Linked DNA regions of Homo sapiens: region 2 is linked to region 1. The links come from fine-mapping of genetic effects on gene expression. A gene starts in region 1. The other region holds a variant in brackets. All regions are shown on one strand. Distances are from middle to middle. Region 1 holds the start of MEX3D (mex-3 RNA binding family member D). Region 2 overlaps TCF3 (transcription factor 3).

Region 1 (5,501 bases):
TACAAAAAGTAGCCCGGTGTGGTGGTGCACACCTGTGGTCCCAGCTACTCAGGAGGCTGAGGCGGGAGGATTGCTTGAGCTCGGGAGTTCTGAGCTGTAGTGAGCTATGCTGATCCAGCGTCTACATTAATATGATGACCTCCCTGGACTGGGAGGACCACCAGGTTGCCTAAGGAGGGCTGAACCTACCCAAGTCAGAGACGGAGCTGGTCAAAGCTCTCATGCTGATCTGTCCTGGGGTCACACCTGTGAATAGCCACTGCACCCCAGCCTGGGCAACAGAGCAAGACTCTGTCCGAAAAAGAAAGAAAAGGAAAGGAGAGGAGAGGGGAGGGGAGCAGAGAAGGAAGGGAGAATCCTGGTTGATACGGTGAAACCCTGTCTCTACAAAAAATACAAAAAATTAGCTGGGTGTGGCGTCAGGCACCTGTAGTCCCAGCCACTCGGGAGGCTGAGACAGGAGAATGGCGTGAACCCAGAGGCGGAGCTTGCAGTGAGCCAAGACTGCACCACTGCACTCCAACCTGGGTGACAGAGCGAGACTCCGTCTAAAAAAAAAAAAAGAAAGAAAGAAGGAAGGAAGGAAGGAAGGGAGAGAAAAGAAGAAATGAAGAACGAAATAAAGGATGAAAGAAAAGGAAGGAAGCAAGGAAGGAAGGAGAAGAAAGAAAAGAAAGAAGGAAAGAAAGACAGAAAAAAGAAAAGGAAGAGAAAGAAAAAAAGGAAAGAAAGAAAAGGAAAAGAAAAAAGAGAAAGAAAGGAAAGAGAAAGAAAGAAAAAGAAAAGAAAGAAAGGAAGAAAGAAAGAAAAAAAGGAAAGAAAGAGAAAAAAAGAAAGAGAGAAAGAAAGAGAGATAGAAAAACAATTCCAAGCATGGGCGTGCACGAAAGAGAAGTCCAGGACCCCAGGAGGGGAAGTGGGGCTGGATGCAGCCTGGGGTCAGGAGAGAGATTTTGGGTGGGGAAGGGCTCCAGGCAGGGGGATCCTGACCCTGCCTGCCTGGAAGAAGTGGGCAGAGAAGCCACCAAAAGTGAAGGGCCCAGCAGTGGGTGGCTGTGGCTGAGGGACTAGAAGAGTGGCTGAGGGGGACCCAGGGTGTGTGAGGCGGGGGGAGGGGACAGAGGAGAAGCCTTGCTAGGCAAAGGGGCAGGCTGCCCCACTCCTGCCCAGAGAGCCCTGCCTTCGGTCCAAGTTTGCACAGCCAGCCAGGGACAGGTCTGGTAGAAGAGGGGGGCAGGTAGACCCAGCCAGACAGGTTTATCACAAAAAACCCCACAGGTGCAAGGAAGGCCCCGAAGGACAGCTGGAGGAAGAGCCGCTGGGAAAGCGGCTATTTTTTTTTTTTTTTTTTTTTTTTGAGAGGAGTCTTGCTCTGTCAACCAGGCTGGAGTGCAGTGGTGCAATCTCGACTCACTGCAACCACCACCTCCAGGGTTCAAGCAATTATCCTGCCTCAGCTTCCTGAGTAGCTGGGATTACAGGTGCGCGCCACCACGCCTGGCTAATTTTTGTATTTTTAGTAGAGTCGGGGGTTTCACCATGTTGGCCAGGCTGGTCTCTAACTCCTGACCTCGTGATCCACCCGCCTCGGCCTCCCAAACTGCTGGGATGACAGGCATGAGCCACCGCGCCCGGCAAGGGTGGCTTTAGAGGTGGACAACGCCCGTTGCGGGGAAAGGCACCCCAGAAGAGGGTGGGGCTCCACATGGAGGGTTCTGGCTGGTGTGAGCCTGCCCTCGCCATGGAAGCACCACTGTGGTAGAGAGGTCTCTGGCTGGGGGCACAGAGACCGGGTCTGTGGCCTTGGGTGGGGCGGAGGAGGTGGCGTGGAGGAGGTGGCCTGATCCCAAAGCCGGGAGCCAGCCAGAGGGGAGCTAGGAGAGACTAGGGGAGAGGGACCTCAGGCCCTGGGGTGTGCATGATTGTGGAGCTGTCCCTGGCACAGAGGCTGGGGGTGGGGCAGGGGCCTGACCCTAAAGCCCACCTGATAGCAAGGGGTACTTGGGGACTGGGACCCCAGGCCCTGGGGGGTGCACCGTGGGGCGGGGGTTGGACCCTGGCACAGAGGCGGTGGGCGGGCAGGAGCCTGACTTCGAAGTCCAGTGGGATCGCGAGGGGGACTTGGAGAGGACCCCACGCCTTTATGCAGGGAGGTGGGGGTCCCTGGCACAAGGAAGCGGGCGTGGAGCAAGAGACCTCGCTTGGGGGCGACCCGGATCTCTAGGGGAAATTGGGGAGCGGGACCTCGGGCCCTGGGGCGCGCGAGGCAGGGACTCTCAGGCTTGGGGAGGGAGCGCTGTCCAGGCAGGGGCTGAGCCGCACACACCTGCAGCAGCGCCCGCACGTGCGGATGCGCCCGGGTTCCCGCCCGAGCGCCGGGCGGAGGCGGGGCCTGGACCACGTGCCCGGCGCCGGCCCCGCCCCGGCCCCGCCCCGCGCGCCTGCGCCCTGGGGGCCGCCCATTGTTGGGCCGCGGCGTGACGTCGCGGGGGCGGGGCCGGGGCGGGGCCGCGGGAGGCGGCGGGAGGGAAGGAGCGTCCCGCGCCGCCGCCGCCGCCTCGGCCGCCGAGGAGCCGCCGCCGCCGTCGCCGCCGCCGCCGAGCCGCAGCCAGAGTCGCTGCCGCCGCCCGGCCCGGCCCGGCCCGGCCCCGAGCAGCCCCGCGCCGCCGCCGCCCCGCCCGCCCGGCCCCCCGTGCCCGCCCCCGCCGCTGGATGCAGGCGGCCGGCGGCCCAGCTCGCAGAGGCGGAGGGCGGCGCGGGCGGCGGCGGCGGCGCGGGCGGCAGGAGCGCGGGCCCCAGCGCTAGCTCCCGCCATGCCCAGCTCGCTCGGCCAGCCCGACGGCGGCGGGGGCGGGGGCGGCGGCGGCGGCGGCGTGGGGGCGGCGGGGGAGGACCCCGGACCCGGACCTGCGCCCCCGCCCGAGGGCGCCCAGGAGGCCGCGCCCGCGCCCCGGCCGCCGCCCGAACCCGACGACGCGGCCGCCGCGCTCCGCCTGGCGCTGGACCAGCTGTCGGCGCTCGGGCTGGGGGGCGCTGGCGACACGGACGAGGAGGGGGCGGCCGGGGACGGCGCAGCGGCGGCGGGGGGCGCGGACGGCGGGGCGGCTCCGGAGCCTGTGCCCCCCGACGGACCTGAGGCCGGCGCGCCCCCGACCCTGGCCCCCGCCGTGGCCCCCGGGTCGCTGCCGCTGCTGGACCCCAACGCGAGTCCCCCGCCGCCGCCGCCGCCCCGGCCGTCGCCCCCCGACGTGTTCGCGGGCTTCGCGCCCCACCCCGCGGCCCTGGGGCCCCCGACGCTGCTGGCCGACCAGATGAGCGTGATCGGCAGCCGCAAGAAAAGCGTCAACATGACCGAGTGCGTCCCGGTGCCCAGCTCCGAGCACGTCGCCGAGATCGTGGGTCGCCAGGGTGAGTGGCCCTCGTCGGGGGTTGCTGTCCTGGGGGTCCCCGCACCGTCCGCCCCGGGGAAGGGGGTCGCCCGAGCCCAGCCCAGCCCGCGCCGGACGCCCCGCACCGGACACGCCCCGCGTGGGCTCCGGCCTCGGCCGCTGCCTTTGCGCCTTTGTCCTGCAGCCGCCGCGGGAGAAAGTTGGGCGCAGCCCGCGCTCCTCCCCTGCGCGCTCCGGCCCCGCCGCCGCCTTTGTCTGGGCCGCCTCCAGCCCGGAAAGGCTCCGGGGAGCCGCGCCGCAGCCCAGGCCCTCGGCCGCCCGCAGGGGCACCCCAGAGAGGGGCTCGAGGGCCCGGGGCTCCGGCCGGGCGGGGGGCGCCCCACACCCAGCACAGGCGGCGGGGCGGGGCAAGCGCAGGTTTAGGGGTGGCTTAGGGGGGCCGCCTGCAGGACCGGGAGAGAAGGCTGACAGTACAAAGAGCGCACGTCTCAGTCTCCAGCCTGGGGCCCTGACTGGGGTGGGGACGGGACCGGGCAGGAGAGGGTCCCTGCTCCACTCTCTGGCCCCGAGTCAGGGATTTCGGGGCCTGGGGAAGGACCGGCTGTCAAAGCCACTTCTGGGGTGCAGCCTGCTGGGCAGGCCGGCGGGCGGCAGGCCCCGGGTGTGGGGTCCAGCGGTGGCATCGTCGGAGCTTCCCTCTGGCCGCCCCATTGTTCTCTTTGTTAGAGAGCGAGGCTGAGATTTGCAGGGTGACATCAGGCCGGCCGCTGCTCATTGGCCCCCGAGCTGCGGGGCGGGCGGGCGGGTGGTGGGCAGTGCCTGGCCCAGCTCACACCCACCACCCCGTTAGCCACCCGCCCGCCTGCCTCCCTCAACTTTCTCCTGCCTTCCCGCCACCCCTCCCCGCTCCTGGGTCCCCGCTGACCGCCAGTGATCAGCCAGGTTCTAGAACTTGGGGTGGGGCCTTGGCGGGGCTGGTGGTGGGGCCGCAGGACACTTGGGCTGGGGGTCCCTGCCTCCCCGGGGCCCTCGGGAATCCAGGCCAGAGAAAGGTGTGGGGGGCTGGGATTGCAAGGTCATCTATGGCCCTGGCCTCAGGCGGGGGACCACCAGGGCGCCCTCCCCTCCGCCCTTTCCCTCGGTCCAGGTGGGTGGGGCACCACAGCCTCCTGTCTTTTGGTCGTTCATTTGTCCAGCTCATGTGGGGACCCACGGAGGGTCAGGCATGGTGCTGGCCCCAGGAAGCATGCTCTGGAGTGGTGGGTGGGGAGGGACTGGGTTCTGTCTCAGTCCTGCTGGCTGCCCTTGGTGGGACCCCCTGGCAGGAGGGCGCCCTACCATCCTGTTACTGCCTCCCCATTGAGGCCTTCCACCCGGCCTCCATGTCCCATACCCAGGGCCTAGAACGGGACAGCTGCCCTGTGCGGAGTGTCTGGGAGCCTGTGGAGACAGGCGTCCAAGCCGAGGCCTGGGGACCAAGTGACCAAAGGCACGAGCCTGAGCCTCCAGGTGGTGGAGGCTGTGGCTGTGTTCTTTGTGAACGCGCTTGTCCTGGCACCCAAGGGCCTTTGAGCGAGGCTATGGCCACATGGGGAGCTGGCAGGAATCAGCGTCAGGCTGAGAGCTTCTAGACCTGTGGCCTCAGGGTGGGAATTCTCTAGGGGCAGGTCCATGGGAAATGGAGTCTGTGGGCACCAGGCTCAGCCCCCACCTCTGGCCTGTGCGTTCTGCACCCACTTACTGGGCTCTTGCTGGTGGCCGTCAGCAAGGCAGGCCCTGGGGTACAGTGGGGGTCGGGGGTAGAGTGGGCCCTGATTGCTTGTCCTGCAGGCCGCCGTGGCCCTGCGCAGATGACGGCCCCTCTCTGTGATGTGCGGACGTCTCACCTCCATTAGGGTAGAGGATTCTGGGGCAAGATGCTGGTTTTATTTATTTATTTATGAGACGGAGTTTCGCTCTGTCGCCCAGGCTGGAGTGCAGTGACGTGATCTGGGCTCACTGCAAACTCCGCCTTCTGGTTTCAAGCAGTTCTCCTGCCTCAGCCTCCTGAGTAGCTGGGATTACAAGTGTGAGCCACCACGCTCAGCTGATTTTTGTATTTTTAGTAGAGAC
Region 2 (5,000 bases), 48 kb before region 1:
GGAGACCCGTGGGGTTGGAGCAGAGTGAGGAGAGGGAGAGAGGGAAGGGGGGAGGGCGGGGCAGGGCAGGTCATGCGGGGCCTTGTGGGCTGCGGGGAGGACTTGGGATTTGGCCATGAGAAAGGTGGCAGCCGTGGAGGGCTGAGGAGGGATGGGACCTGACCCAGGTGCTCACAGATACCCTCTGGTGGCTGCTTGGAGGACAGACTATGAGTGGCACCGGGAGACCAAGGCAGAGGCCACAGGGCTGGTCCAGGGGCCTTGGAGGGGTGAGCAGTGGGTGGGCCCTGCATCTCCTGAAGGCGGGGCCCACAGGATTTGTGATGGACAGGACTTGAGGGTGAGAGAAGGCAGGGTGGCTCTGGGATTTCTGGCCCGAGCTGTGGGTGACACTGGGGCTGGGAACTCCGTAAGGAAGGGGACAAAGGAAAAGGTTGGGGACAAATCTGGACCTGGGCCTGGGGATTGTTGAGTGTCTCAGACACCCATGAGAGGCCCAGGAGAAGGTGGGGTCATTGTGGGCGCTGTCCTGGCCCTGTGCCTTCCACCAGCCCAGGAATCCTGCCTGCTTTCCAGGCAGACTTTCCAAGTACCTTGATTCTATCACTCCTAGGCCAGGGCATCTCACCGCAGCGGCTCTGCCCCCAGGGGACACTGGGTGATGTCTGGGGACATCTACAGTTGTCAGGGCTGAGGGGAGCTCCTGGCATGGAGTGGGTGGGGGCCAGGGATGCTGCTCAGCACCCTGCAGTGCCCAGGACGGCCCCACCCCAGAGAAGGGTCCGGACCCACAGGTCAGCAGTTTCCAGGGGCAGCCCCAAGCTTAGTCTTTCACCCATAGGCTCCCCTCTGTTTCCTTCCTGTCCTTCACTTCGTGTGCTGAGGCCTGGGCTGGTCCTGGTGGCTGGCGTTGGCCGATTGGAGCAGAGTTCACTGTGGGGAGCGGGTGCATTTCTGAGGCTCCCCCTCAGGGTACGGGGGTCTCAGGGGATGGCAGCTGGTTTGCTCCATGTGAGCCCTGACTGATTCCTGGACTCCCCAAGCCCGGGTTTTGGGGGTGGCCCAGGCCCTGCTGAATGCAGAGTGGCCGCATTCATTTGGGGCACTGTGTACCCTTAAGCCACATGTTTTGCAATTATTGTTCTTGAGCTTCATGAACACGGCGTCCCACTAGCGTGTTCTTTACACGCTGGTTTGCTGGCTTATGTTGTGTGTGGGGTACATGTGTGGTGTGAGCGGCTGGGGTCCCATTGTGAGTGTGCCGTTGGCCCTGGCCCGGGCGTGGGGCTGTAGGTCATTCCAACATCACGCTTTCCTGCCAACCTGCTGATCAAGGGTGTGATACACCTGTTGTCAATTCAGAGGAAAGGCTGATGAATTATTTTCCAAAGCAGCCAAGTTGCCCTCCCACAGGCAAGATTTTGACTGTTCAGGTCCCTCAACTTTGCTAGCTGACTGGGTATGAAAGGGTAGCGCAAAGCCACCCTAATTTGCATTTCCTTAATCTCTTGATGTGCTGAAGCGGACTTCCACGTGTTTCTAGCCATGTGGTTTCCTTGTCTGTGAGATGCCTTTTTGGATACCTTGCTTATTTTTCTACTGAGTTACTTTCTTTTTGTCCTTTCCCATTGATTGTGGGAGATCACCTCCTGGTTGGCTACATCTGTGGTGGGTGTCTTCTATTCTTTGGCAAATGCTTTTCTTTTCCTGGTATCTTTGCTGATCAGGAACTCTCAATTCTGATATAGTCCAGCTTACTGATTTTTGTTTTTTCTTTTTTACTTGTTTTGTTTTGAGACAGGGTCTCACCCTGTCACACCAGAGTGCAGGGGCATGATCACAGCTCACGGTAGCCATGACCCCCTGGCCTCAAGTGACCCTTCCACCTCAGCCTCCCAAAGTGCTGGGATCACAGGCGTGAGTCAGCCACTGTGCCCGGCCTGTGTTCTTTCAAAAGCAGCGCTTTGAGCACTTGCTTGGACAGCTCTTGGACTAAAATGAGAATGATAAAGATTAGCATAGCATCTGCACAAGGGTGACGTGGACATTCCTGAAGTGTTCCAAAGTTTTATTCTTTTTTTTTTTTTTGAGACGGAGTCTTGCTTTGTCACCCAGGCTGGAGTACAGTGGCGCAATCTTGGCTCACTGCAACCTCCGCCTCCTGGGTTCAAGTGATTCTCCTGCCTCAGCCTCCCAAGTAGCTGGGATTACAGGTACCCACCACCACAGCTGGCTAATTTTTTGTATTTTTAGTAGAGATGGGGTTTCACCATGTTAGCCAGGATGGTCTTGATCTCCTGACCTCGTGATCCACCCACCTCGGCCTCCCAAAATGCTGGCATTACAGGTGTGAGCTGGTGTGAGCCACTGTGCCCATCCGAAGTGTTCCATATTTTTAAGTTAATGATTGAAACAGTTTACTTTCACCAAAAAAGAAGAGTGTTCTTTTAGCATCTTAGTAGATTCCTGCCATTGAGTTGCTGCAGAATTTCTACACACTTTGTTCCAAAGGTGGTAAAACTGTTTCCCTTTCATCTTGTGGTCCTTAATCTGTCTGGCATTGGTAGCTACACATGGCGTGAGGTAGGGATCCAGTTCTGGTTGTTGGTTTTTTGTTTTTATTTTTGGCCAAGACCTGGTTTTTCCAGGAAAGCCCAAGTCCCTCACCACAGGAGCACAAAGAGATATGTCAGTTGGCCCTGGAGGCC[G/A]ACGCAGGCCCCTGACCCTAGGCCTGTTGCAGGGCTAGGGCGAGCAGGTGCCACGGCGGCCGCCAGCGAGATCAAGCGGGAGGAGAAGGAGGACGAGGAGAACACGTCAGCGGCTGACCACTCGGAGGAGGAGAAGAAGGAGCTGAAGGCCCCCCGGGCCCGGACCAGGTGCCAACCCACCCCTCGGCACTCCCCACCCTCACCCCATCAGGACGCACATGTGCACAGGCCACACGCACACCGCACCCACACTGGGAGGCCGTCGGCGGGCCCCACGCTCTTCCCCCAACCTCACTGTCTCCCTCTGGCCCCCTCCCGGCGCCCTCCCCATAGCCCAGACGAGGACGAGGACGACCTTCTCCCCCCAGAGCAGAAGGCCGAGCGGGAGAAGGAGCGCCGGGTGGCCAATAACGCCCGGGAGCGGCTGCGGGTCCGTGACATCAACGAGGCCTTTAAGGAGCTGGGGCGCATGTGCCAACTGCACCTCAACAGCGAGAAGCCCCAGACCAAACTGCTCATCCTGCACCAGGCTGTCTCGGTCATCCTGAACTTGGAGCAGCAAGTGCGAGGTCAGTGGGGGCGCGGGCCACCAGCGTCCCTGCAGCGCCACCCTCCCTCGTGTTCCTGCCCTCGTTCTCCTTCCCCGCCCGCCTTCCTGGAGCCAGCCCTCCCTCTGCAGCAGTTGCCTCCTTGCAGTGACTGTGCCCTTCACCCCTCTGACCGCATTGCCATGACTGTCCACTCCTGACTGCCAGCCCTTCTCCCTGCCTGCCTCAGCATCCCCTCCACAGTGGGAGGACTGGACTCTTTCTGGACCCCTAGTCCTTCAGGCCTGGGCTCTGTGGCTCAGAACTGTATCTCCCAGCTCCACGGGGCTCCCACTCGCCGTGGTCCTCCTTTCTTGGGAAGCCCAGAACCCAGCTCACAGAGGCCAGTGTCCCCCGATCCCAGAGACAGGAGCTGGTGTGCAAACCACCCTGGCCCCTTCCCGTCAGGCAGATGCCACGCAAGGCCACATGAGCCCATCCCCTGTCTCTGACTCAGTTTCCCTATCTGAAGGTGATAGGGAAACTTCCTATCACCCCCATTTCCCAGGGCCAGGGGGAGGAAGGATACAGACAGACCCTGTCCCCACCCGCAGATGTGAGCTGACTCCTTCCCCCCGCTGGCGCTGGCGGCTGCTTCCTTAACTCCTTCCTTTCCTCGCCTGCACCCCGTTAACCCTTTCTCTCCTGCAGCACTGTTGCTGGGACCGGAGCCAGAGCCCCGGCCCGGCCCACACGCTATCCCCTCAGCTCTAAGGTTTCCGAGTCTCTGCAGCCGTGTGTGGCACGCCTCGCGCCCCCCAAGCCCGCCTCTCTGCTGTCTGCCTTCCGCCCTCCCCTCCATCCCGCCCGTCCGTCCCTCTGCTTCCCGTGGCAGCCCCTCCTCACCTCGCACTTGCTGCCCGAGCACCGGGAGCGGCTGGGCTGCAACCTCAGGGCGTTTCCTCCCCCAAAGCCCCCCGTCAGGGCTTGCGGGAAGAAACCAGACCCGGGAGCACGCAGCCCCTGGTCCTGTCAGTTTGGTCTGTGCGCTTGTCCTGGGCTCCAGGGGCCGCCCCCACCACCTGGAGGGATCCCCTCAGGCCCCTAAGGCAGGGTGGGCAGGCAAGTGGGTGAGGCAGCCCCCTAGAGACTAAGACAGGGCACCAGGCATGCTGGGCACTGGGCCAGACCTTCACCCATTTCATCTTCACCACAACCTAGAGCAGTGGGTGCCCTGATGGGGACCGGCATCCATTCTACCAAGTAGGAAGCCAGGGAACAGAGCGAGGTCACCCATGCAGGGCCATGCAGCACAGAGGCCTGGGCCGGGACCCGCACCCCTGCGGCAGCAGCAACAGTGCCCGCTCGCCAGCTGCATGCTGCTCGGCTGGAGAGGGGGCTCAGCCTTGGGCCTGGCACAGAACAGGCTCTTGGAACCTCAGAGCTCCTACTGCGACCATTCACGGTGGCAGTGACAATGGGGTTCCTGGAGGCCTAGGGAGCTGGCCTTCCCAGCCAGGGGCAGGAGCTCAGGGAGGGCTCATCTTGGGGCAGCCGGAGTTCACTGTAGGGGACGGGTGCATTTCTGAGGCTCCTCCCCAGGGTGTGGGGGTCTCGGGGGATGGGAGCTGGTTTGCTCCATGTGAGCCCTGATTTGAGTCCTGGACTCCCCAGTCCCGGGTTTTTGGAGTGGCCCAGGTATTTGCCTGCTGAGCCCGTGTCTTCAAGGCCTCCTCTGTCCACAGTGAGTCTGGCCAGGCCTAGC

Evidence for each region. PIP is the estimated chance that this variant, and not a neighbour inherited with it, causes the effect.
Region 2: its variant is fine-mapped to the expression of MEX3D in blood mononuclear cells (TOPMed, PIP 0.94).

What each region holds. Positions count from the first base shown.
Region 1 is chr19:1,565,371-1,570,871 of GRCh38, reverse strand. MEX3D (mex-3 RNA binding family member D) reads left to right here and starts at 2,547. Exons shown (of 2, transcript NM_203304.4): 1 at 2,547-3,408. The coding sequence starts at 2,814. It also overlaps the pseudogene RN7SL477P. RefSeq lists silencers at 2,268-2,317, 2,358-2,547.
Region 2 is chr19:1,613,562-1,618,561 of GRCh38, reverse strand. TCF3 (transcription factor 3) reads left to right here. Exons shown (of 19, transcript NM_003200.5): 17 at 2,741-2,876; 18 at 3,042-3,277. It also overlaps the pseudogene RNU6-1223P. Among named protein-coding and RNA genes, the nearest start is that of UQCR11, 11 kb to the right of the region's middle. The variant G/A (reference allele first, on the strand shown) is at 2,709.